Regions from separate parts of the Homo sapiens genome. Here region 2 is linked to region 1. The links come from fine-mapping of genetic effects on gene expression. A gene starts in region 1. The other region holds a variant in brackets. All regions are shown on one strand. Distances are between the middles of the regions. Region 1 holds the start of SHTN1 (shootin 1). Region 2 overlaps SHTN1 (shootin 1).

What was found. PIP is the estimated chance that this variant, and not a neighbour inherited with it, causes the effect. A credible set is the group of variants that fine-mapping cannot tell apart.
Region 2: its variant is the best candidate, but not a certain one, in a credible set for the expression of SHTN1 in fibroblasts (GTEx, PIP 0.61).

What each region holds. Positions count from the first base shown.
Region 1 is chr10:116,998,558-117,011,493 of GRCh38, reverse strand. It overlaps SHTN1 (shootin 1), which reads left to right and starts at 6,307. Exons shown (of 17, transcript NM_001127211.3): 1 at 6,307-6,472. The coding sequence starts at 6,415. RefSeq lists silencers at 6,131-6,210, 6,441-6,550, 6,422-6,716 and an enhancer at 6,531-7,224.
Region 2 is chr10:116,929,915-116,942,850 of GRCh38, reverse strand. It overlaps SHTN1 (shootin 1), which reads left to right. Exons shown (of 17, transcript NM_001127211.3): 9 at 2,239-2,385; 10 at 12,849-12,936. Among named protein-coding and RNA genes, the nearest start is that of SHTN1, 69 kb to the left of the region's middle. The variant T/A (reference allele first, on the strand shown) is at 6,096.

The sequences.
Region 1 (12,936 bases):
ATCTATGAATAGAGATGGTACTGGCATAAGGACAGACATATTGACTAATAGAATAAAATAGAGAGCCCCAAAATAAATCCTCATGTATATCACCAGTTGATTTTCAACAAGGGTACCAAGACCACTCAATGGGGAAAGGACAGCCATTTAACAAGTGGTATTGGGAAAAGTAGATATCCACATGCAAAAGACTGAAGTTGGTATGAAGGTAGAAAAGGCCTAACAAAAATTAACTAAAAATGGACCAAAGACCTAAACTTAAGAGCTAAATTCAGCTAAAACTACTGAATTCATCTATTAGCTCTAGTAGCTTTTTCACAGATTATTTGGGATTTTCTCTATATAGCTATATGTCATATGTGAATAGAGATAGCTTTACGTCCTCCTTTCCAACTTGGATGCCTTTTCTTTCTTTTTCTTGTCTAATTGAACTTGCAGCACACTGTTGAATAGCAGTGATGAAAGCACATATTCTTGTCTCGTTCCTAATTTCAGGGGGAAAGCTTTCAGTCTTTCACCATTGACCATGATTATAGCTGTGGCTTCTTTACAGATGCCCTTTATCATGGTGAGGATGTTCCATCTATTACTGGTTTGCTAAGAGTTTTTATGGTGAAACGATGCTGACTTTTGTCAAATGCCTTTTCTGTCTCAATTGAGATGATCACCTGGTTTTTTTCCTATTAATGTGACATATTACATTGATTGATTTTCTTATGTTGAACCACTTTTGCATTCCTGGAATAAGTACTACCTGGTCGTGGTGTATAATCCTTTTAATGTGTTGTTGGATTTGGTTTGTTAGTATTTTGTTGAGGATTTTTGCAACCATATTCATAAGAGAAATTGGTGTGTACATTTCTTTTCTTTGTGATATCCTTATCTGGCTTTGGTATCACAGAAATGCTGGCCTCATAGAATGAGTTAGGAAGTGTTCTCTCCTTTTTTGTGTTTTAGAAAAGTTTGAGAAAGACTGGTGTTAATTCTTTAAATGTTTGATAGAATTCACCAGGAAAGACATCTGGGCCTGAACTTATTTTCATTGAAGGGTGTCTTTCTTTTCTTTTCTTTTCTTTTTTTAATACTTTCTGAATTACTCTACTTATAATAGTTCTGCTGAAATTTTCTTTTTCAGTTAGTTTAGGTGACTTGTGTGTTTCTGGGAATTTGTCCATTTCTTCTAGGTTATTTAATTTGTTGACATATAATTGTTCTTATTATTCTCTTAGAATCCTTTTTATTTCTGAATCATTGGTATTACTGTCCCCATTTTAATATCTGATTTTCATATTTCTTTTTTTTCTTCGTTAATTTAGGGAAAGGATTGTCAATTTTGATACTTTCAAAGAAATAGCTTTTTATTAATTCTATTATTTTTCTATTGTCTTTTATTTTATCTCCACTCTAATCTTCATTATTTTATTCCTTCTGCTAACTTTAGGTTTATTTTGCTTGTCTATTTTCTCAAGGTGTACAGTTACCTTATTGATTTTGTATCTTTCTTTTATAATGTAGTAATTAGAACTATAAATTTCTCTCTGAGCACTGTCTTCACGGTATTCCATAAGTTTTTTTTTTCTTTTCCTTTTTTTTGAGACAGTCTCACTCTGTCGCCCAGGCTGGAGTGCAGTGGCGCGATCTCGGCTCATTGCAAGCTCCGCCTTCCGGGTTCATGCCATTCTCCTGCCTCAGCCTCCCAGTAGCTGGGACTACAGGCGCCCGCCACCACGCCCGGCTAATTTTTTGTATTTTTAGTAGAGACGGGGTTTCACAGTGTTAGCCAGGATGGTCTCAATCTCCTGACCTCGTGATCTGCCCGTCTCGGCCTCCCAAAGTGCTGGGATTACGGGCTTGAGCCACCGTGCCCAGCTTGTATATATGTTTATAGTAATTATATATTCTTACCGAATCAACCCTTTTGTGAATATAGACTTTTGTTTATTGTAACAGTTTTTGACTTAAAGTCTGTTTTGTCTGATATTAATATAACCACCCCAACTCTCTTTTGGTTACTAATTAAATTTTTTCCTACCATTTTGCTTTAAATCTATTGTTGTCTTTGGATCTAAAATAAATATTTTGTAGACATCATATAGTTAGATCATACTTTTTTTTGCATCCTGCCAGTGTTTGCCTTTTGGAGAGTTTAAGCCATCTTCATTTAAAGTTACAGTTAATAAGAAATGACTTATTTCTGCAATTTTGCTATGTATTATCTATATGTCTTATAGCTCTTTTGCTCTTCATTTGCTTCATTATTGCCTTATTTTATACTTAGTTTTTAAAAAAATGTGTATGTTTTTGGTAATCATTTTGACTTCTTTCTCCTTTCCTTTTGTGCATATTTGGTTGATATTTTCTTTTCTTTTCTTTTTTTTGAGACAGAATTTTGCTCTTGTTGCCCAGGCTGGAGTGCAATGGCACGATCTCGGCTCATTGCAACCTCCTCCTCCTGAGTTCAAGTGATTCTCCTGCCTCAGCCTCCTGAGTAGCTGGGATTACAGGCATGTGCCACCACGCCCAGCTTATTTTTTATATTTTTAATAGAGATTGGGTTTCTTCATATTGGTCAGGCTGGTCTCAAACTCCTGACCTCCGGTGATCCACCCGCCCTGGCCTCCCAGAGTACTGGGATTACAGGCGTGAGCCACAGCGCCCGGCCAATTCTATAGTTTTGAGTATATTCAGAGAATTGTACAACCATTACCACAATTAATTTTAGAAAATTTGTATTACCCCAACAATTAACCACACACCTATCAGCAGCCATTCCCTGTTTTCTCCCAGACCTCCCCTACTTTCACCCCACCTCAGTAGATACTCACCAATCAACTTTCTCCCTCTATGGATTTGCCTGTTGTGATCATTTTATACAAGTGCAATCATACAATATCTGGTCTTTTCTGATCAAGTTTTCACTGAGTATAATGTTTTCAAATTTCATCTGTGTTGTACCATATATCAGTACTTTATTTTTATTACCAAATAATATTCCAATATTGCCATTTTCATATGATAATTAACATTACATTAAATAGCTCTGTACATAAGCCTTTTAGGATAGATTCCCTGATATAGAATTAGTGGATCAAAGACAGTGAACCTTCTTCTCCTCATTGTATTTCAATCTTATTTATCTGTATACCTCAAAAGATGACATATGTGATTTTACTTTAATTACCTGAAAAATTAAATAAAGATTAAAGAGAAACTCCTTCTTGACCACTGCACTTTCACACTCCAACCCCCACACCTTGGTCCTGTTCCCCTACTTTCTATCCCTAGAGACAGCCATTATCCTGAGTTTGGCACATATTCTTCCAATTCATTTTTTAAAAGTCTGTCCTTTATCTCTATGTATATATTTGTATATATATATGTAAACACACACATTTTTAAGGGTTTTAAATGACCTGTTATTTGGAGGTCAATAGTAACTCCAACGTGATGCCTGCAACATAAATCACTATGTATATTATTATTATTGAGATGGAGTCTCGCTCTGTCACCCAGGCTGGAGTGCAGTGGCATGATCTCGGCTCACTGCAACCTTCGCCTCTCGGGTTCAAGTGATTCTCCTGCCTCAGCCTCCCGAGTAGCTGGGACTACAGGTGCCCGCCACCACACCCAGCTTTTTTTATTTTTAGTAGAGACAGGGTTTCACCGTGTTAGCCAGGATGGTCTCAATCTCCTGACCTCGTGATCTGCCCGCCTCGGCCTCCCATAGCCATCACTCTGTATATTATTAAACGGAACAAAAACTAATTTATCACTTCTATCCTTTCCATCAATATTCATATCATATAAATAAACAATAGTGTAATGGGAGAACTGAATCCCAATAAGGACTCTAATAGCCCTCCTAATAATTCATACCATGTCCTCAAGTGAATGCCATATTGTATTTCAGGAGTTTTTTTTTTTTTTTTTTTTTTTTTTGAGATGGAGTCTCACTCTGTCACCCAGGCTGCAGTGCAGTGGCAGAATCTCAGCTCAGGAGCCTTTTCTAATTTTAAGGAGGATAAATGGGATTAATTGCAAGAGGCCGCAGATTTAGTATGGAACCAAAAGTTTGATTATAGATTTGATAATTAACTCATTCTTAAACTCCAGAAATACTATCTAACTACTGTATAATTGGAGTAGACAAATCAGCCATTAAAAAAAAATGGAACTTTGTGAACTAAGCCAAATATTTAATGGGCACTCTGCTTGTATTTGGTAGAGTGAGAGAGAATGAGTCAGGATGACTCATCAGGTTTAACAGGTTTCCCAACTGCTGGACAAAAGCTAAATGTCCATTATTTTTCATTAAAATCTCCCGGATTTTTTTATTATTATCTCCTGGGGATCTTCATGGCAGCTATCTGCAACTATCTTGAATTATCTTACGCATACCTAGGGAAAGGGCTGAATAATACAATCCCATATCAAAATTATTTTTAAACTTTAAACATTTTAATACACTGTATTAAAAAATACTATGCTGCCCTTTTAGATCATTCTACCCCTAAATCACTCATGCTAAAGTACTATATTGCCATTTTAGAGAAAGAGAAAGCAGTGCTACCATTTTTTTTTTCAAAATTTTAGTTAGCATGTAGTGAGTATCAGAAAGACACTAGTTACAGGATTTACCCATATCTCAACCTCACTCTACAACTATCATGGAGAAATGAACACAAGAAATGGAGCTGGGCACTTCCATAAAACAGCAATTGAGGAATGAGCAGCACTGTGCTGTTGCTGTACCCAAACTAAGAGCTTAGAGGTAGTGAGAAAAACCAAGCTGTGCAATAAGTCTAATTCAGTTTGGACTTATCTCCCATGCTTAATGATCAGTGTAAAAGAACTGCAACCTTCAGCTTATAGTCAGCAACCACAACCCCTTTCTCACAGACCTGTAATTTTTTTTTTTTTTTTTTTTTGAGACGGAGTCTCACTCTGTCACCCAGGCTGGAGTGCAGTGGCGCGATCTCGGCTCACTGCAAGCTCCGCCTCCCGGGTTCACGCCATTCTCCTGCCTCAGCTTCCCGAGTAGGTGGGACTACAGGCGCCTGCCACCACGCCCGGCTAATTTTTTGTATTTTTAGTAGAGACGGGGTTTCACCGTGTTAGCCAGGATGGTCTCGATCTCCTGACCTCGTGATCTGCCCGCCTTGGCCTCCCAAAGTGCTGGGATTACAGGCGTGAGCCACTGTGCCCGGCCACAGACCTGTAATCTTTATTAAAAACAAAAAAACAAAAAAAAAACAAAAAAAAACTGCATTATAAATTCTGGACTTGGTGTTTTGTTAATCTTCCTCTATTAAATCCTTACAACTCTTCCTTGAGAGTAGGTATCACTATTCTTCCTATTCTTCAGATGAAGTTCAAAGATGCAGGAGACTTGACCAAAGGTTAGCTCGCAACTAGGGGTTGGGGAGAAGCACCTTTGAAACAATGCAGACCTGCCACTTCTCTCCTGGGCATGGTCTAACACAGACATGAGTTCAAATAGTTCAGAGGGCAGTGAACTGGGACAAACGCTTGGCTTAACTGCCAGCCTCTGCTGCCCGGGGGCTGCGTGACCTTCGGCATTCGGACTGCAGTGGCACCCTCTCTAAAGGGAAGGTCATCCCGCCACCAACCAGATGATCTGCAAGGGCCCTCCAGGCCCCACCATCCACGTGCAGCAGGGTCCACGTTCTGACCACCTGGCAAACCTGGTGCGATGGGGGAAAGCTAGCCAGGGCCCTCCTTCACTCACGGCATGGTCATTTAAGTAGCTGGGCGGCCTGATTCGATCCTTGTCTCCTCTTCAAGGTGCAAAATGTACCACCCTGGGCCCGCCCCTGTGGGCAGCTAGGTTTTGCAACCGCGCCCCCAGAGTCTACTGCGGGAAAACTAGGGAAGAAGCCCAGGCGTTCATGGCTCATTGCGTCCCGCTCTACCTCTGTGGTTCTTTGGGAGCGACCCCCGGGAAGCGTCCAAAGTGGAGTTCCCACACACGCTGCGAACCCACAGCCGGTTTTCTCTGAACTCGCGTCCCTGAGTCCGGGAGGTGGAGGCGGAGAAAAGGGTGCGGAGCGACCCCACGCAGGGCCGCCCCCCCTCCCACCAGCGCGTCCTGCCGCGCCGGCAGCCACAGGCTGGCATAGCGGCTGCCGACCCGCCCTCGTTCCTCCACCCCCTGAACGGGACTGCTGGGCCCGCCCCGCCCCGCCTGCAGGTGAAGCGGCCGCAGCCGCCGAGTAGGTGCGTGGGGATGATCTCACTCGCGCGCTCCGCGCCAGGAGGAGGAGGAGCGGGAGCGGATCCAACTTCCGGGTAGTGGAGCCGCAAGCCACCGGCATCTTGCTTTTTCTTCCCCCTCCTCCTGTGTGCCCCGCGCCGCTCCCTCTTTCCCTTTTATTCCCGGCCCCACCCGCCAAAATGAACAGCTCGGACGAAGAGAAGCAGCTGCAGCTCATTACCAGTCTGAAGGAGCAAGGTAGGCAGCACGCGGGCGCCAGGTGTGGGCAGCCGCGGCCCGTGGGCGGGGACGGCCCCAGGGCGCTGGGGCCAGGGCAGTTGGAAGCCGGGCGGGAGACGTGGCGGCCGCCGTGGTCACCGCAGTAGCTCCGTCACCCGCAGAGAAGCGTCCTCCGTGGCCGGCGCGCCTGGGAAAGCTCTGGACCGAGGATAACGCGGAGTGTCGGGGCTAGTCAGGCCCCGCAGCTCGAGACCCGCTGCCCGCTGGTTGCGTTTGCTGGCGATCGGGGGCTGGGGGAAGGGACGAGGATTCAGTGCGGACGAGGTTGCACAGTGCCACCTTCCTTGCCGGAGAAGCGGGTGGGGCAGGATATTTTGGCTGCTTTGGGCGGCTCAGCTAGCTTGGCCCCACCCTTACACATTTGTTGGCGCTGGGTGGCCTGTAGGGCTGTTTCACACCCTTCCCAGCTTTTCGTTTGGATTCGGTCTAGTTCCTCTTTCCTTGCCCAGCTGGGATTTTCAGGCCATAATTTTTTTTTTAATCACTTCTCAATTTTAGCAGTTTATTAGTCAGCAAGGTCAACATCCTGCCAGTGTTGAGCTTTCAGAATTAACAGGGTTGACGCTGGGCGAAGGAGAGCCAGGCCATGCGCACGCATTTCTGTACTGCTTGGTAACTGGGGATTATCCTTTAATAAAGACCTGCTTCAGTCAATCATTTTTTTCATCAGTTACCACACTTCTGAACCAAACCAGATCAACAACCAAATGCTAACCTATCACATTTAAACACTTATCATTATTACCCTGACCAAAGGGTGGTCTGCGAATGTGGGTCAAGACAGGGAGGAACCAGCCGGGTGCGGTGGCTCACGCCTGTAATCTCAGCAATTTGGGAGGCCGAGGCAGGTGGATCACCTAAGGTCAGGAGTTCGAGACCAGCCTAACCAACATGGAGAACCCCTATCTCTACTAAAAATACAAAATTAGCCGGGCGTGGTGGTGCATGCCTGTAATCCCAGCTACCCGGGAGGCTGAGGCAGGAGAATCGCCAGGAGGCGGAGGTTGCGGTGAGCCAAGATGGCGCCGTTGCACTCCAGCCTGGGCAACAAGAACGAAACTCCATCTCCAAAAAAAAATAATAATAATAAATAATAAAGAAATAAAGGGAGGAACCATACAGATTTAAAGGAAGTAAAAATGTGTAGGAACATGTACTTTTCTGAATGTCTTGCTGACAAGACCATGTAATGGAAGGATCCCTGCTCTGTGGCAAAACCTGGTATTTAGTTGCAGCTCTTTCACTTCTCTTGGCCCAGCTCACCTGCTCTGTGAACTTGGAGGAGTCTCTTTCCTTCCGTGGATCTTCTGGTCAATCAAGGCCGACCTGACTAAAGGCGAGGGTGAAACTGGAGGACTTTCTGAGGTCCTGTCCAGTACTCTTACCTGTTGTTGCGTAAAACCACAGACACCGTTGGGAAGTGCTCCCGGATTCCTCTGAAGCCACACTCTGGCAAACAAATTTCAACATTACTGTTTACTGTGTGACCCTGGGGAAATTATTTAACCTCTGAAATGGACATAACACATTCTTCTGTGATATCCAGCATCTAGAAAGTGCTGGATAAATGTTAGTCTCTTTGGCCTTCCCAGCACCTTTACCTGGCATCCTAGATTAGCCTGAGGTCATAAAGTCACAAGCATCAGTGAATTTAGTGGGTGGACAGAATGCCTTTATCTGAAGTTTCTCAAGTGTTTTAGCGAGGGACTGGATTCTACTGACTGGTATTTTATATTTAATACACCTTCGCCCAACCCAAAACATTAAAACTTGATTCATATTCTAGATTTGTGGAGCTTTCATTATAGGTAATATCTGTCAGTGGATATCAGATCTTCTTATGGTTGGTCAGTTTTCGAATAATGATAAACATAAAAAAATTTTCCCTTTCATTTCTTGTATAATCAAGGGTCGATTAACAATGTAGATAATCTGCAAATTGCTTATATTTGATTTCGGAACACATTCTCCATTCCTATGTTGGGTTTGAGGCCTGACAAAAAGGATTTCTATATTTGTGGCTCTTTCTCCTATTGCATTGTATTGGAAAATAAACAAATCCTTGGCATTGGTATTTTTAGAGGATATATTTCCTTGATTAAGTGCATATGAAAGGTAATAGAACAGTTAGATATTCAAAGTTGTGTTTCTTAAAAGGTACACTTTTGGGGATAGTGAGTCTAGTTACAAAGGTGTTGGGATTTTTTCAGCCCACAGTGTGATTTTTATACATTTCAAAACCAGGTAGTTTGCTTGTCATTGGATCACAGACTGTGGAAACAATTTACTTCAAAAGTGTTCAGTTACTGTTTGACCTGTAGAACTAATTGGGAAGCTAGGGATTTGGAAGAACAGGTAACTGGGTCTTTGAGCATTTAACAGTACATACTATGATCAATTTTGTAAGCTGATGGTTGCATGGTTTATTTTTGAAAATAGTAATTTTTACTACCTGTTACTACCTTTTTACTCACAATGTTAATATTCTGAGTGATAATTCCACTACCCCTATTTAGTGTGAGCAAGAAGAACCACTATTTATCAAATATGTTATTTTCCCTTAATAATGCTGAGTAAACATATTTATTCATTCCTTCAACAAATACTTATCAAGTACCACCATATGTCAGGTCCATGTGGTAGGCACTAGGGGTGTAAATAGTGAACTACACAGTCCTTGTCACCAAATTAATTTTCTAGAAGAGAAGACAGGTACTATTCAAGTTATCATATGAATAAATGTACAATTACTTTTTTATTCTAGGATAGATTCTTAGAAGAAATGGAATTGTTGGATTAGAGGGCACGGACATTTACTTTTGCTAGACATTGCAAAAGTGCCCTCCAAAATGATTATACCAGTTCAGATATCCTTCAGCAGTACCCATTTCCCCACACATTGGTCAACTCTGGCTAATAGCAATCTTTATTCATTTGATGGCCTGACAAGTTTTTGAATTTTTGCCAATCTAATGGGCAGAATGTTACCTTTTAAGATTTGCATTGCTCTGGTTATTAGTGATGTTTGAAATCTTTTTACATGGCCATTGGCCATTTAGGTTTCATCATATGGGTCCTTCCTTAGTGATTTTTTTTTAAACTGATACATGAGACTTGTACATATTTATAGAAGACATGGGGTATTTTGTTACATGCTTAGAATGCATAATGATCAAGTCAGGGTATTTGGGATATCCATTACCTCCAGTATTTATCATTTCAATGAGTTGAGAACATTTCAAGTCCTCTCTTCTATCTCTTTTGAAATATATAATACATTGTTGTTAACTGTAGTCACCCTACTTTGCTATCAAAATGTTAAAACTTACTCCTTGTATCTAACTATGTTTGAACCCATTAAACAATCTCTCTTCATTTTGCCCTGCCTTAGTAAGTTTTAAGTCTAAAACTTGAACCAGTTCCCCAGGAGAGTGTTCAGAAAGGAGATTCCTGTCTACTCTAAACCACAAAGCTGACAGCAGCCTTCCCTAACGTGAAGCCTTTAGTGGTGTGGTGAATAAGGTTGCTTTTGACAAAAGTTGTGAAATGTAATGACGGAGTCTGTCATAATATGAACAATCTCTAATTTATACTTACCATTCCCTAAGCTCTATGTCTTATAAATCACACCCACTTCTGAATTACTTCAAAACATTTTATGTTCCCTCCTAGTGAATGGTATAATTAGCTATATTATGTCTTTCCAGAAAGTTATATTATGTCCCTTTAAAAAAAATTAGCCAGTGTGTGATTGCTTATGTTCAAGCAGATGTTGAGGTAATGAGGTAATTCTCCTTTTGTCTTTTTTGGGGCTTTATTTTATTGGACTGATTGACATCTTTAATGCACCGAGAAATGGCAACTTTGGATACTATTTCCGAGGCATATTTCCTAGCTACTAAAGTGGATATTTCCCTTACAAAACATCATACAATTTGCTCCCCCTCCGGAATTCAGTGGGAAAATGATAGACTTAGTTCAGCATTTGTTTAAGGTGCATGATTTTCTGTATAATTCATTCAGCCCACATGCATTGAATATTCATAGCCAGGCACTGTGCTAGGCATCAGAGAGATAGAGCTGAATAAGACCTTGCCTCTGCTGGTGAGGAGTTCCTGGTCTAGAGATAGTGCTAGGCATGTAAATTCCAGGAGGAGTGTCTGATTGGCCTAGTTTGGCCAATCTCATGTATTCAAATACTTTGGCCACGGGAGGGCAGGATACTTTAATTGGCAGCCCCTGCAAAGATTGGAGGAATAGTCCAAAACAGAATGGGGTGCACTACCATGAGGATGCTGACCGGGCAGACACAGACAACACATGTCTGCTAAACTGTTCAGTGTAGTAATGCCATGTCATTTCCAAGTTGATGAAATTTTGAAGAGAGATGGCTATTTAATAATAAGGACATACATAAGAGGAAAACAACCACCACCACCCCAATAATGGGCAATTTTTGGGCTAACAGTATTTAAAATGGATTTCCTATGGTGAGGTAATTGGTTTTAAAGCAATTTTAAACCTCTTTTCACCTTTAGAGTTAGTATCGTTTTCCCCAAGATTATTGAGATGATACTTAAGTTCACATGGAAATCTAGTCAAGCTTATTCTTAGAGCAAGTTAGTAATTAAAAGATGCATCCAGTATTCCATTGGCTTCTAGGCCAGGAAATAACTGGAGCATTATTTTGACAAAACAGTCTGAAACTATTGCCTACCACAATGACCACGTCAGTCTGGGAAAACGGAAGCATTGACAATCTTGGGTGCATATGAGATCAGCCAGTAGAAAGCTGTTTGGAATTAAATGTTGCCTTGTTTTCAAGTGCAAACTTGGTTTTACATCAGTATTTTTCAAAGTGTGGTACAAGGGCCAGCTGCATCTGAATCACCAGGTACTTATCAACAATGCATTTTCCTCTGAAAGTTAGGGAGTGGTTGCTGAAGAACAACAGTTTGGCAACCCCCCATGAGATGAACATGCAGTGTGGGCTAAGGAACTATGTCTTCTAGTCAGAATTTCACTATTTCCTTAATATTATTTATTTATTTATGTATTTATTTATTTGAGACAGAGTCTCACTCTGTCACCCAGGCTGGAGTGCAATGGCGTGGTCTCGGCTCACTGCAACCTCCGCCTCCCAGGTTCAAGCAATTCTTCCGCCTCAGCCTCCCAAGTAGCTGGGACTACAGGCATGTGCCACCACACCCGGCTAATTTTTGTATTTTTAGTAGAGATGGGGTTTCACTATGTTGGTCAGGCTGGTCTCGAACTCCTGACCTTGTGATCCACCCGCCTAGGCCTCCCAAAGTGCTGGGATTACAGGCGTGAGCCACCGCACCCAGCTGTGAACCTTTTTTAAAATAAATGCAAAAATAAACACATGCTCATAGAAAACAAGTGTGTAAAGTGAAAAGTACAATTAACTATTCTATCTGACCCATTGTTTCTCAATCTTTATTTCATTATCACTCTCCTAAGGAAACTTTTTAGGCGTTTTATGCACTGTGACTCTTTGAAGGGCCATAAGCCATTGTAATATCCAAGATCTTTTCTCTTATCTCCTTGAGGATGAAATCACTACATTGACAATGCATGCTATGACCCCATTCCCATTTCCCAAAGTTAACTACTGTTAACCTTTTGTTTTCTTTCCTTCCAGAAATTGTGTTTGTATGTGCATATGTATTTATCATGTAATATGTAATTTTTTATATTAGTACATGTAGCGTTGTCATTAAAAATTGATTAATGTTCCAATGTACAGACGTACCACAATGTATTTAATGTCCTCTGGATGGACATTTCTATCTTTCTTTCCTTGTTTTTGCTATTACAAATAATGCTTCTGGGCTGGTTGTGTTGGCTCACGCGTATAATCCCAGCACTTTGGGAGGCCAAGGTAGGAGGATACCTTGAGCCCAGGAGTTTGATACCAGCCTGGGCAATGTAGTGAGACCCCATCTCTCTAAAAAGAAAATGCTTTTGGCACTGGATTCATGTTGGAGACATCAGTGTGAACTCATGTTTAGCTTAATACAGGTATGGATGGTTACACATATATATATATGTTGGTATATACATATATTTTCTTGCTCTGTCAGCTGAGAGAGCCTAGATGCACCAGTATCAATGAGCACATCTAGAGCCCAGAACTTGGCTTCTAATGCCATTCTCGAATAAAACGAACAGGGTTCCTAGGAGAAATGGCTAATTTTAGGAAAGGGGCAGGAAATATACAAGATGAGCCTAGGGCATCTTGTAGTGTGGAAACTAAGGAAATGCACCAACTGATAAGCTGACATTGATGGAGATACTGTAGTCCCTGCTTACCCATGGAGGAAGCTATGTTTCAACACCTGCAGTAGGTGCCTGAAATCATGGATAATAACAAACCCTATATATTCCAAGTTTTTTCCTGT
Region 2 (12,936 bases), 69 kb after region 1:
TGTGCCAGACACTGTGCTGACATTGGGAATCCAGTGGTGAAGAAAGCAAATGTGAGCCCTACCCTCTTGGAGCTTATAGTCTAGAGCCTTAGAAATCAATTTTTAAGGTTAATTTACTTTATATTTTTAATTAAAAAGGAGTATGTGTGCCTTGCACAAAGATACAAATATTTTCTAAATGTATAAAATAAAAATTGAAAGTTACCCCCCATTCTTAACTCCCGCTAGTTCATTTAAAAAACAAAACCAAAAACTTAATCCCCCTCAACAAGAAAACTATCAGTTGTCTTCATAACTATATTAAAATTTTAAATTTCTTCAACATAATTAAATTTTTTGACCAGGCATGGTGGCTCACGTCTGTAATCCAAGCACTTTGGGAGGCCGAGGCGGGGGGATCAATTGAGGCCAGGAGTTCAAGACCAACCTGGCCAACATAGTGAAACCCCATCTCTACTAAAAATACACAGATTAGCCAGGCATGGTGGCAGGCACCTGTAGTCCCAGCTACTTGGGAGGCTGAGGCACGAGAATCACTTGAACCTGAGAGGCAGAGGTTGCAGTGAGCCGAGATTGTGCCACTGCACTCCAGCCTGGGTGCCAGAGCGAGACTCCATCTCAAAAAAAAAAAAAAATTACTGTAATCATAATGGTCACCCAAAACAATTCATTTTAATTAAATCACTGGTCTGAAGTTTAAGATACTGTGATGAAATATTGATTACTCTTTCTTAGAATGCTGAAGCTGCATCTCACCCTTCTCCAGCCAAGTGTACATGCACATACTCTTCCTCACTGCAGTCTCTATACCTCTCACTCTCACACAAATGGAAGAAGAATGTGGGTTTCATGTATATGCAATTGTTTATTTACCTGTTTGACTTTGTAATGTGTTTTAATTCTGCAGAAGAACCCTGTCGTAGTTTTGTAGGCTTTTCATAAATCCCTAGGCAAAGAAGGAAAGCTTCTGACCTTTTTTTCCCTTTCATAGGAAGACATACTGGGAAGAAAATGTTAGTGTTTTAGTATACTGTATTCATGACTTGACTTTGATGTGGAAGTCGATACTGATCAAGAGCTTAAGGATTGTATAAATCATTAAAGCTGTGGTCTTGCCACATGGAGGTTGATGGAAAATATTTTTGTCCTGAGTTTTATTTGCTGACTTTTTCTGTTACATGATGGGTGAAGTTGTTGAACAAACTAATATGAGGGCTTTAGCAAATCATTTTGCAGTTCAGAGCTTTCAGTTAAGTTATAATGTAAATTTTAAAATGCTGTTAAAAATCTGAAAAGGTGAAGCTCTATTATAAAATTGGTAGGCCAGATTTCAGAGTTTACAAAAACATTTCATACTTGGAATCACTCACTGGCCAAATTGGGTAGAGTGTTAAGGAAAAGAAATAACAGGTAAATAGAAATCAATATTATTTTCAATCATGTAAAGTTGTGAGGATTTGATGAATAACATATAAATTGCTTAATACAGTGCTCAATAAAATATACTGTCTCCCTTCTCCCCTTTACCCTTCTACTGTTAACTACTTTTATCACTAGGGAGAAACTAATTAGTTTAAAACAAAACATTAGATCTAGCAAATAGTAGAGGAACTTAGCCAGATGGTTAAGAGCTTGGGCATGTAAATCAGATATGGGTTTAAGTCCTGGTCTTGTCACTTACGTGTGTTCTTGGGAAAGTTGCTTAACTTCTTTGAGCCTCAGTTACCTTATTAGTAAAATTAGATGATAGTAGTGTCTACTTGATAGTGTTGTTTTAAGGATTATATGATATAATGAATGTAAAATGATTCCCACCATATCTATCACATAGTGTTTAGTAAATGTTACCTATTCATAGTAGAAGCACTTTAATAGGATTGATGTAAGGATTAAAATAATCCATATAAAATATTTAGTGGAGTACACAAGGTAAATTCTTGAGAAATATTAGCTACTACTATTAATATTAATGTATCTTAAAGCAATAATAAAATATTAAAAACTGAAGAGTAAGACCAGCTTATTGTATAAATATCTTGTTGGGGCAGGAGTAAAGGTATTAAAGATTATATAAAAGGAATGAAATCATAGCAATCACTACTTCTAAAACTTATAGAAGTCAGAATTTGCCTTTAATGATTTAATAAAAATTCCATGTACTTTTCTTTTGCTGAAGTTACAGTTGAGGAGGTATGTGAGATTGATTGATATATACATTCTTGTAACAAACTTTTGCAGATGTTCATTGAGCAAAACAAGCTAAAGAGACAAAGCCACCTTCTGCTGCAGAGCTCCATCCCTGATCAGCAGCTTTTGAAAGCTTTAGACGAAAATGCAAAACTCACCCAGCAACTTGAAGAAGAGAGAATTCAGCATCAACAAAAGGTAACCCATTTTCTTCTGGAATCTTAGGTACACACACACATACATGCATACACACATATATTTAAGATGAAGGGAGCCAGTGCAGTCAGTCCAGTCATTTACTGTTTCATATTTTGCCTTAGTTACTAAGTGCTTTCAACCACCTTTTAGAAAAAAATAACTAAATGAACTTAATGTTGTGAAACTGAAATTTGTAATACGCTATTATAGACTTTATAATAATCTTTAAACTGTCCAAAGGGTCGGAAGAAGCAAGGGAAAGAGGTATAACTTAAAAACAGCTTGGATAAGGCAAAGTCTGGAAATTCAATTTTTGGAAATGTTATATTTTTTGGAGACTGCACACACTAAGAGGCTGTATTCAACTCAGAGCACTTGTTGGAGGGCATAGGTTTTATTCAAAGAAAATGACAGTCCGTATTAGTAGTAATTGTTTGCTTAGAGAAAATTTTTGATTTTGTAAACTTGCACAAATGTGTATGTTTAAAGACTTCCTAAGTGATTATTTCAATTTGATGAGTGGAGCTATTCCAGCTGACACAGCCTACCTCTGTGTGCCAAGAAGAAAGGATAGTCATTGTGGTAGGTGAGAGGAGAAGCAAAGAAGTGGAACAAAGACTTCCAAATTAAAGAGACCACTTAAGAAAAATTACATCAATGTTTATACTACTTATAATGTACCTCATTTGGGAAGGAAAGGCTGTTAGCTGCTACTTGTTACCACCTGTCAAAGCCTCTGTGGCAACAGTATTGACATTTAATCCTTGGAAGTTCTGAAGTTTTTACAAACTTGGTGGTGAGGTTGAGTTGATTTGTTTTGCCTCAATAAGAAATGTTGATATATGGTGGCTGGTAAGATGGCCGAATACGAACAGCTCCGGTCTGCAGCTCCGAGCGGGATCAACGCAGAAGGCGGGTGATTTCTGCATTGGGTACCCGGCTCATCTCACTGGAACTGGTTGGACAGTGAGTGCAGCCCATGAAGGGTGAGCTGAAGCAAGGTGGGGTGTTGCCTCACCCGGGAAGTGCAGGGGATTGGAGAACTCCCTCTCCTAGCCAAGGGAAGCCACGAGAGACTGTGCTGTGAGGAATGGTGCTCTCCAGCCCAGATACTACGCTTTTCCCACCATCTTTGCAACCCACAGACCAGGAGATTGCCTTGGGTGCCTACACCACCAGGGCCCTGGGATTCAAGCACAAAACTGGGTGGCCATTTGGGCAGACACCAAACTAGCTGCAGGAGTGTTTCTTCATACTCCAGTGGCACCTGGAACTCCAACAACACAGAACCATTCACTCCCCTGGAAAGGGGGCAGAAGCCAGGGAGCCAAGTGGTCTAGCCCAGCAGATCCCACCCCCACGGAGCCCAGCAAGCCAAGATCCACTGGCTTGAAATTGTCGCTGCCAGCACAGCAGTCTGAGGTCAACCTGGGACACTCGAGCTTGGTGGGGGGCAGGGTGTCTGCTATTACTGAGGCTTGAGTAGGCAGTTTTCCCCTCACAGTGTAAACAAAGCCACCAGGAAGTTCGGACTGGGCCGAGCCCACTGCAGCTCCGCCAAGCTGCTGTAGCTAGACTGCCTCTCTAGATTCCTCCTCTCTGGGCAAAGCATCTCTGAAAGAGAGGCAGCAGCCCCAGTCAGGGGCTTGTAGATAAAACTCCCATCTCCCTGGGACAGAGAACCTAGGGAAAGAGGCGGCTGTGGGCACAGCTTCAGCGGCTTAAACGTTCCTGCCTGCCGACTCTGAAGAGAGCAGCAGATTTCCCAGCGCAGCGCTTGAGCTCTGCTAAGGGACAGACTGCCTCCTCAGGTGGATCCCTGACTCCCATGCCTCCTGACTGGGAGACACCTCCCAGCAGGGGTCTACAGACACCTCATACAGGAGAGCTCCAGCTGGCATCTGGCAGGTGCCCTTCTGGGATGAAGCTTCCAGAGGAAGGAACAGGCAGAAATCTTTGCTGTTTTGCAGCCTCCACTGATGATGCCCAGGCAAACAGGGTCAGCAGTGGACCTCCAGCAAACTCCAGCAGACCTGCAGTAGCGGGGCCTGACTGCTAGAAGGAAAACTAACAAACAGAAAGGAATACATCAACATCAACAAAAGGACATCCATGCAAAAACCCCATCCAAAGGTTACCAACATCAAAGACCAAAGGTAGATAAATCCACAAAGATGAGGAAAAACTAGTGCAAAAAGGCTGAAAATTCCAAAAACCAGAATGCCTCTTGTCCTCCAAAAGATCACAACTCCTCGCCAGCAAGGGAGCAAAACTGGACAAAGAATGAGTTTGACAAATTGACAGAAGTAGGCTTCAGAAGGTTGGTAATAACAAACTCCTCCGAGTTAAAGGAGCATGTTCTAACCCAACGCAAGGAAGCCAAGAACCTTGATAAAAGGTTAGAGGAATTGCTAACTAGAAAAACCAGTTTAGAGAAGAACATAAATGACCTGATGGAGCTGAAAAACACAGCAGGAGAACTTGGTAAAGCGTACATAAGTATCAATAGCCGAATCGATCAAGCAGAAGACAAGATATCAGAGATTGAAGATAAACTTAATGAAATAAAGCATGAAGACAAGATTACTGAAAAAAGACTGAAAAGGAATGAACAAAGCCTCCAAGAAATATGGGACTATGTGAAAAGACCAAACCTACGTTTGATTGGTGTACTGGAAAGTGATAGGGAGAATGGAACCAAGTTGGAAAACACTTTTCAGGATATTATCCAGGAGAACTTCCCCAACCCAGCAAGACAGGCCAACATTCAAATTCAGAAAACACAGAAAACACCACAAAGATACTCCTCGAGAAGAGCAACCCCAAGACACATAATCATCAGATTGACCAAGGTTGAAATGAAGGAAAAAATGTTAAGGGCGGCCAGAGAGAAAGGTTGGGTTACCCACAAAGGGAAGCCCAGCAGACTAACGGTGGATCACTCTGCAGAAACCCTACAAACCAGAAGAGAGTGGGGGCCAATATTCAACATTCTTAAAGACAAGAATTTTCAACCTAGAATTTCATATCCAGCCAAACTAAGCTTCATAAGCGAAGGAGAAATAAAATCCTTTACAGACAGACAAATGCCGAGAGATTTTGTCACCGCCAGCCCTGCCTTTTAAGAGTTCCTGAAGGAAGCACTAAACATGGAAAGGAAAGACTGGTACCAGCTACTGCAAAAACATACCAAATTGTAAAGACTAATGACACTATGAAGAGACTGCATAACCTAATAGCAAAATAGCCAGCTAGCATCATAATGACAGGATCAAATTCACACATAACAATATTAACCTTAAATGTAAATGGGATAAATGCCCCCAATTAAAAGACACAGACTGGCAAATTGGATAAAGAGTCAAGACCCATCGGTGTGCTGTATTCAGGAGACCCATCTCACGTGTAAAGACACATAGGCTTAAAATAAAGGGATGGAGGCATATTTACTAAGTAACTGGAAAGCAAAAAAAAAGCAGGGGTTGCAATCCTACTCTCTGATAAAACAGACTTAAAACCAACAAAGATGAAAAGAGATAAAGAAGGGCATTACATAACGGTAAAGGTATTAATGCAACAAGAAGAGCTAACTATCCTAAATATATATGCACCCAATACAGGAGCACTCAGATTCATAAAACAAGTTCTTAGAGACATATAAAGAGATAAAGACTCCCACACAATAATAGTGGGAGACTTTAACACCCCAC[T/A]GTCAATATTAGATCAACGAGACAGAAAATGAACAAGGATATTCAGGACTTGAACTCAGCCCTGGACCAAGCAGACCTAATAGACATCTACAGACCTCTCCATCCCAAATCAACAGAATATATATTCTTCTCAGGACCACATCGTACTTATTCTAAAATTGACCACATAATTGGATGTAAAACACTCCTTGGCAAATGCAGAAGAATGGAAATCATAAACAGTCTCTCAGACCACAGTGCAATCAAATTAGAAATCAGGATTAAGAAACTCACTCAAAACTGCATAACTATCTGGAAACTGAACAACCTGCTTCTTAATGACTACTGAGTAAATAACGAAATTAAGGCAGAAATAAATAAGTTCTTTGAAACCAATGAGAACAGAGATACAACATACCAGAATCTTTGGGACACAGCTAAAGCAGTGTTTAGAGGGAAATTTATAGCACTAAATGCCCACAGGAGAAAGCAGGAAAGATCTAAAATCGACACCCTAACATCACAATTAAAAGAATTAGAGAAGCAAGAGCAAACAAATTCAAAAGCTAGCAGAAGGCAAGAAATAACTAAGATCAGAGCAGAACTGAAGGAGATAGAGACACAAAAAAAATCCTTCAAAAAAATCAGTAAATCCAGGAGCTGGTTTTTTGAAAAGATTAACAAAATAGGTAGACTGCTAGCCCAACTAATAAAGAAGAAAAGAGAGAAGAATCAAATAGACACAGTAAAAATGTAAAGGGGGAGATCACCACCGATCCCACAGAAATACAAACTACCATCAGAGAATACTATAAATACCTGTACACAAATAAACTAGAAAATCTAGAAGAAATGGATAAATTGCTGGACACATACACCCTCCCAAGACTAAATCAGGAAGAAGTGGAATCCCTGAATAGACCAATAACAAGTTCCAAAATTGAGGCAGTAATTAATAGCCTGCTAACCAAAAAAAAGCCCAGGATCAGATGGATTCACAGCTGATTTCTACCAGAGGTACCAAGAGGAGCTGGTACCATTCCTTCTGAAACTATTCCAAGCAATAGAAAAAGAGGGACTCCTCCCTAACTCATTTTATGAGGCCAGCATCATCCTGATACCAAAACCTGGCAGAAACACAACAAAAAAAGAAAATTTCAGGCTAATACCCCTGATGAACATCAATGTGAAAATCCCCAATAAAATACTGGCAAACTGAATCCAGCAGCACATCCAAAAGCTTATCTACCACAATCAAGTCAGCTTCATCCCTGGGATGCAAGGCTGGTTCAACATACACAAATCAATAAATGTAATCCATCACATAAACAGAACCAATGACAAAAACCACATGATTATCTCAATAGATGCAGAAAAGGCCTTCGATAAAATTCAACACCCCTTCATGCTAAAAAGTCTTAGTAAACTAGATATTGATGGAACTTATCTCAAAATAATAAGAGCTATTTATGACAAACCCACTGCCAATGTCATACTGAATGAGCAAAAGCTGGAAGCATTTCCTTTGAAAACTGGCACATGACAAGGATGCCCTCTCTCACCACGCCTATTCAACACAGTATTGGAAGTTCTTGCCAGGGCAATCAGGCAAGGGAAAGAAATAAAGGGTATTCACACAGGAAGAGAGGAAGTCAAATTGTCTCTGTTTGCAGATGACATGATTGTATATTTAGAAAACCCCATCGTTTCAGCCCAAAATCTCCTTAAGCTGATAAGCAACTTCAGCAAAGTCTCAGGATACAAAATCAGTGTGCAAAAATTACAAGCTTCCTATACATCCATAATAGACAAATAGCCAAATCATGAGTGAACTCTGATTCACCATTGCTACAAAGAGAATAAAATACCTAGGAATACAACTTACAAGGGATGTGAAGGACCTCTTCACGGAGAACTACAAACCACTGCTCAAGGAAATAAGAGAGGACACTAACAAATGGAAAAACATTCCATACTCATGGATAGGAAGAATCAATATCGTGAAAATGGCTGTACTGCCCAGAGTAATTTATGGATTCAATGCTATCCCTATCAAGCTACCATTGACTTTCTTCACAGAATTAGAAAAACCTACTTTAAATTTCATATGGAACTGAAAAAAAAGCCCATATTGCCAAGACAATCCAAAGCAAAGAGAACAAAGCTGGAGTCATCACACTGCCTGGCTTCAAACTATGCTACGAGGCTACAGTAACCAAAGCAGCATGGTACTGGTACCAAAACAGATACGTAGACCAAAGGAACATAGCAGAGGCCCCAGAAATAATGCCACACATCTACAACCATCTGATCTTTGACAAACCTGACAAAAACAAGCAATGGAGAAAGGATTCCCTATTTAATAAATGGTGTTGGGAAAACGGGCTAGCCATATGCAGAAAACTGAAACTGGACCTCTTCCTTACGTAAATCTTATACAAAAATTAACTCAAGGTGGATTGAAGACTTTAATGTAAGACCTAAAACCATAAAAACCCTAGGAGAAAATCTAGGCAATACCATTCAGGACATAGGCATGGGCAAAGACTTCATGACTAAAACACCAAAAGCAATGGCAACAAAAGCCAAAATTGACAAATGGGATCTAATTAAACTAAAGAACTTATGCACAGCAAAAGAAACTATCATCAGAGTGAACAGGCAATCTACAGAATGGGAGAAAATTTTTGCACTCTATCCTTCTGGCAAAGGGCTAATATCCAGAATTTACAAGGAACTTAAACAAATTCACAAGAAAAAAAAATCTCATCAAAAAGTGGGCAAAGTATATGAACAGACACTTCTCAAAAGAAGACATTTATGTGGCCAACAAACATATGAAAAAAAGCTCATCATCACTGGTCATTAGAGAAATGCAAATCAAAACCACAATGAGATACCATCTCATGCCAGTTAGAATGGCGATCATTAAAAAGTCAGGAAACAACAGATGCTGGAGAAGATGTGGAGAAATAGGAATGCTTTTACACTGTTGGTGGGTGTATAAATTAGTTCAACCATTGTGGAAGACAGTGTGGTGATTCCTCAAGGGTCTAGAACCAGAAATACCATTTGACCTAGCAATCCCATTACTGGGTATATACCCAAAGGATTATAAATTGTTCTACTATAAAGACACACACACACATATGTTTATTGCAGCACTATTCATAATAGAAAAGACTTGGAACCAACCCAAATGCCCATCAATGATAGACTGGATAAAGAAAATGTGGCACATATACACCATGGAATACTACACAGCCATAAAAAAGGATGCGTTCGTGTCCTTTGCAGGGACACGGATGAAGCTGGAAACCATCATTTTCAGCAAACTAACACAGGAACAGAAAACCAAACACTGCATGTACTCACTTATAAGTGGGAGTTGAACAATGAGAACACATGGACACAGGGAGGGGAACATCACACACCAGGGCCTGTCGGGGGGTGGGGGCAAGGGGAGGGATAGCATTAGGAGAAACACCTAATGTAGATGACAGGTTGATGGGTGCAGCAAACCACTATGGCACATGTATACCTATGTAACAAACCTGCACATTCTACACATGTATCCCAGAACTTACAGTATAATAAATAAATAAATAATAAAAATAATTTTAAAAGGAAATGTTGATATATATGTAGAGTACCTCTGGATGGACAGGTGGTAACAGTCCCCTGGGAAAGAGAACTGGAGAATAGGGTGGGAGGGAAAGAATTTCATTCTTTCTTTTGTCCCCATATGTAGGAATTACCTTTTCAAGAAAAGAGAAAAAGAAGAATGTGTTTTTGTTTCAGTTTATGCTAGAATTTAACTTTTGGTTCTGAAAAGTCCAGCTACTTACAGTTAAATCATTTAGTAAATAATACGTGCCTAGAACCTACTGAATTGAGCTGAGGTATAGGACTAAATTGTTGTATATATACCTTGTTGGGTACTAAAGATTAAAGTTATCAATGAAATTATAACAATCACTACTTCTAAAACTGTTATACTCTTTGTATATACAGTTATTCTTACAGTCTTTCATGTACAGATGATCCTTGACTTATGATAGGGTTATGTCCTGATAAACCCACGTTAGTTGAAAATATTGTAAATCAAAAATAATATACCTAACCTACTGAATATTATAGTTCAGCCTAGCCTACCTTAAACATACTCGGAACACTTAACATTAGCCTACAATTGGGCAGAGTCAACTGGAAATACAGTATACTCTAGAGCATCAATCCCCAATCTTTTTGGCACTAGGGACCAGTTTCGTGGAAGACAATTTTTCCATGGACTGGGGAGGGAAGAGGGTGGGGGATGGTTTTGGGATGAAACTGTACCACCTCAGATCATCAGGCATTAGATTATCATAAAGAGCGGCCAACCTGGATCCCTCGCGTGTGCAGTTCACAATAGGGTTCGCGGTTCTGTGACAGTCTGTTGCCGCTGCTGATCTGACGAGGTGGAGCTCAGGCGGTAATGCTTGCTCGTGCCTGCTGCTAACCTTCTGTGCAGCCTGGTTCCTAACAGGCCATGGACCAGTACCAGTCCAAGACCTGGGGGTTGGGGAACCCTGCTCTAGAGTATCAGTTATTTACTCGCATGATCATGTGACTGATTGGGAGCTGTGGCTGGCTGCCGCTGCAGAGGATTGTTGAGAGAGTATCTTATTACATATTGCGAGCCTGGGAAAAGATCAAAATCCAGAATTTGAAGTATGGTTTGTATTGAATGCATGTCGCTTTCACACCATTGTAAAGTCGAAAAACTATCTCAAACCATCCTAAATTGGGGACCATCTGTATGTCGCTTAAAATGTTTCTTAGCTGTCTGTAAGTTCCCTTGCAGATGCAGCAGTCTTTTAAGCACAGCATATGGTTTTTGCAATTATAAAAATAGCATATGCTCCTTATAATACATTTTTAAAATACAGCAAAAGTTAAAGAAGATTAACCAAGTATCCCATATTTTGGTGCATAGCTGAACTTTCTGTAAATATATACCTTTATAAATATAGTTTGTTTAAATTGAATCATACTATGCATACTATTTTATGCCTTGATTTTTTTTCCATTGGTAATATATCTTCTCATGTCAGTATATAGTAAGCTATGTGATTTAAAAGTTGCATAGTATTTCATTGAATAAACATGCTATAATTTATTAAACTAAAAATATTGGTGGACATTTAGGTTATTTGCAACTTTTTGCTGTTGTAAAGAATACTTCAGGCCAGGTGTGGTGGCTCACGCCTGTAATCTCAGCACCTTGGGAGGCCAAAGCAGGTGGATCACTTAAGGCCAGGAGTTCGAAACCAGCCTGGCCAATGTGGTGAAACCCTGTCTCTACTAAAAATACAAAAATTAGCCGGGTGTGGTGACATGTGCCTGTAGCCCCAGCTACTCAGGAGGCTGAAGCACAAGAATTGTTTGAACCCAGGAGGCGAAGTTTGCAGTGAGCCCAGATCGCGCCACTGCACTCCAGCCTGGCCGAAAGAGTGAGACTCTATCTCAGAACAAAAACAAAAACAAAAACGAAACAAAACAAAAAACCACTTCAGTGAATATATTTCAGAGTATTTTAAAAAATAATTTCTAAAAATGGTTTTACTGAATCGAAAGCCTTTCCTTTTTTTTTTTTTTTGAAGACTTTTGATACTTATTACTAAATTTGTGTCCCCCAGGAGTCTTTTAAAATATTACCTGAATTTTTCTTTTGAAAATGGGTACAAAAGTGACCCATGTTTAAAAATTAAAGTGTCTGTGTGACTAACAAGCATATAAAAAATGCTTAACATCACTAATCATTAGAGAAATGAAAATCAAAACCACAATGAGATACCATCTCATGTCAGTCAGAATAGCTGTTACTAAAAAGTCAAAAAATAGCAGATGTTGGCAAGGTTTCAGAGAAATGGGACGCTTAAACACTGCTGGTGGGAATGTAAGTTAGTTCAGCCATTATGGAAGGCAGTGTGGCGATTTCTCAAAGAACTTAACACAGAAATACCATTCAACCCAACAGTCCCATTATTGGATATATGCCCAAAGGAATATAAATCATTCTACCATAAAGACACGTGCACACATATTCATCGCAGCACTATATGCAACAGCAAAGTCATGGAGTCAACCTCAATGCCCATCCGTGGTAGACTGGATAAAGAAAATCTGGTACATATTACACCATGGAATACGGTGTAGCCATAAAAAGGAATGAGATAATGTCCTTTGTAGCAACATGAATGGAACTGGAGGCCATAATCCTAAGTGAACTAACATGGGAATAGAAAACCAAATGTTCTCACTTCTAAGTGGGAGCTAAGCATTGATTACACACGGACACAAAGAAGGGAACAACAGACACTGGGGCTTACTTGATGATGGAGGGTGGGAGGAGAGAGAGGATCGAAAAAGTATCTATCAGGTACTATTCTTTTTACCTTGGTGATGAAACAACCTGTACACCAAGCCCCTGTGACACACAATTTACCTATATAACAACCATGCACATGTACCCCGAACCTAAAATAAAACTTAAAAAAAATTAAAGTGTCTGGTACGTAACTCCCCAGTAAATTTATTTTAAATCAGCTCTTTAGCTGATTTATGATTGTGTGTTAATTGTATCTAGCATTTGCATGGTTGTTAAGATGGATTGGAATCTGTTTGCTATGAAGTACAGTCAAAGGGAAATATTTATTTTTTCCCTTTCTTTTCTTTGACAAAGGAAAAACTGTCAGCCATAAAAGTCTTTTTTTTTTAAATAACTTATAGGTCAAAGAATTAGAAGAGCAACTAGAAAATGAAACACTCCACAAAGAAATACACAACCTCAAACAGCAACTGGAGCTTCTAGAGGAAG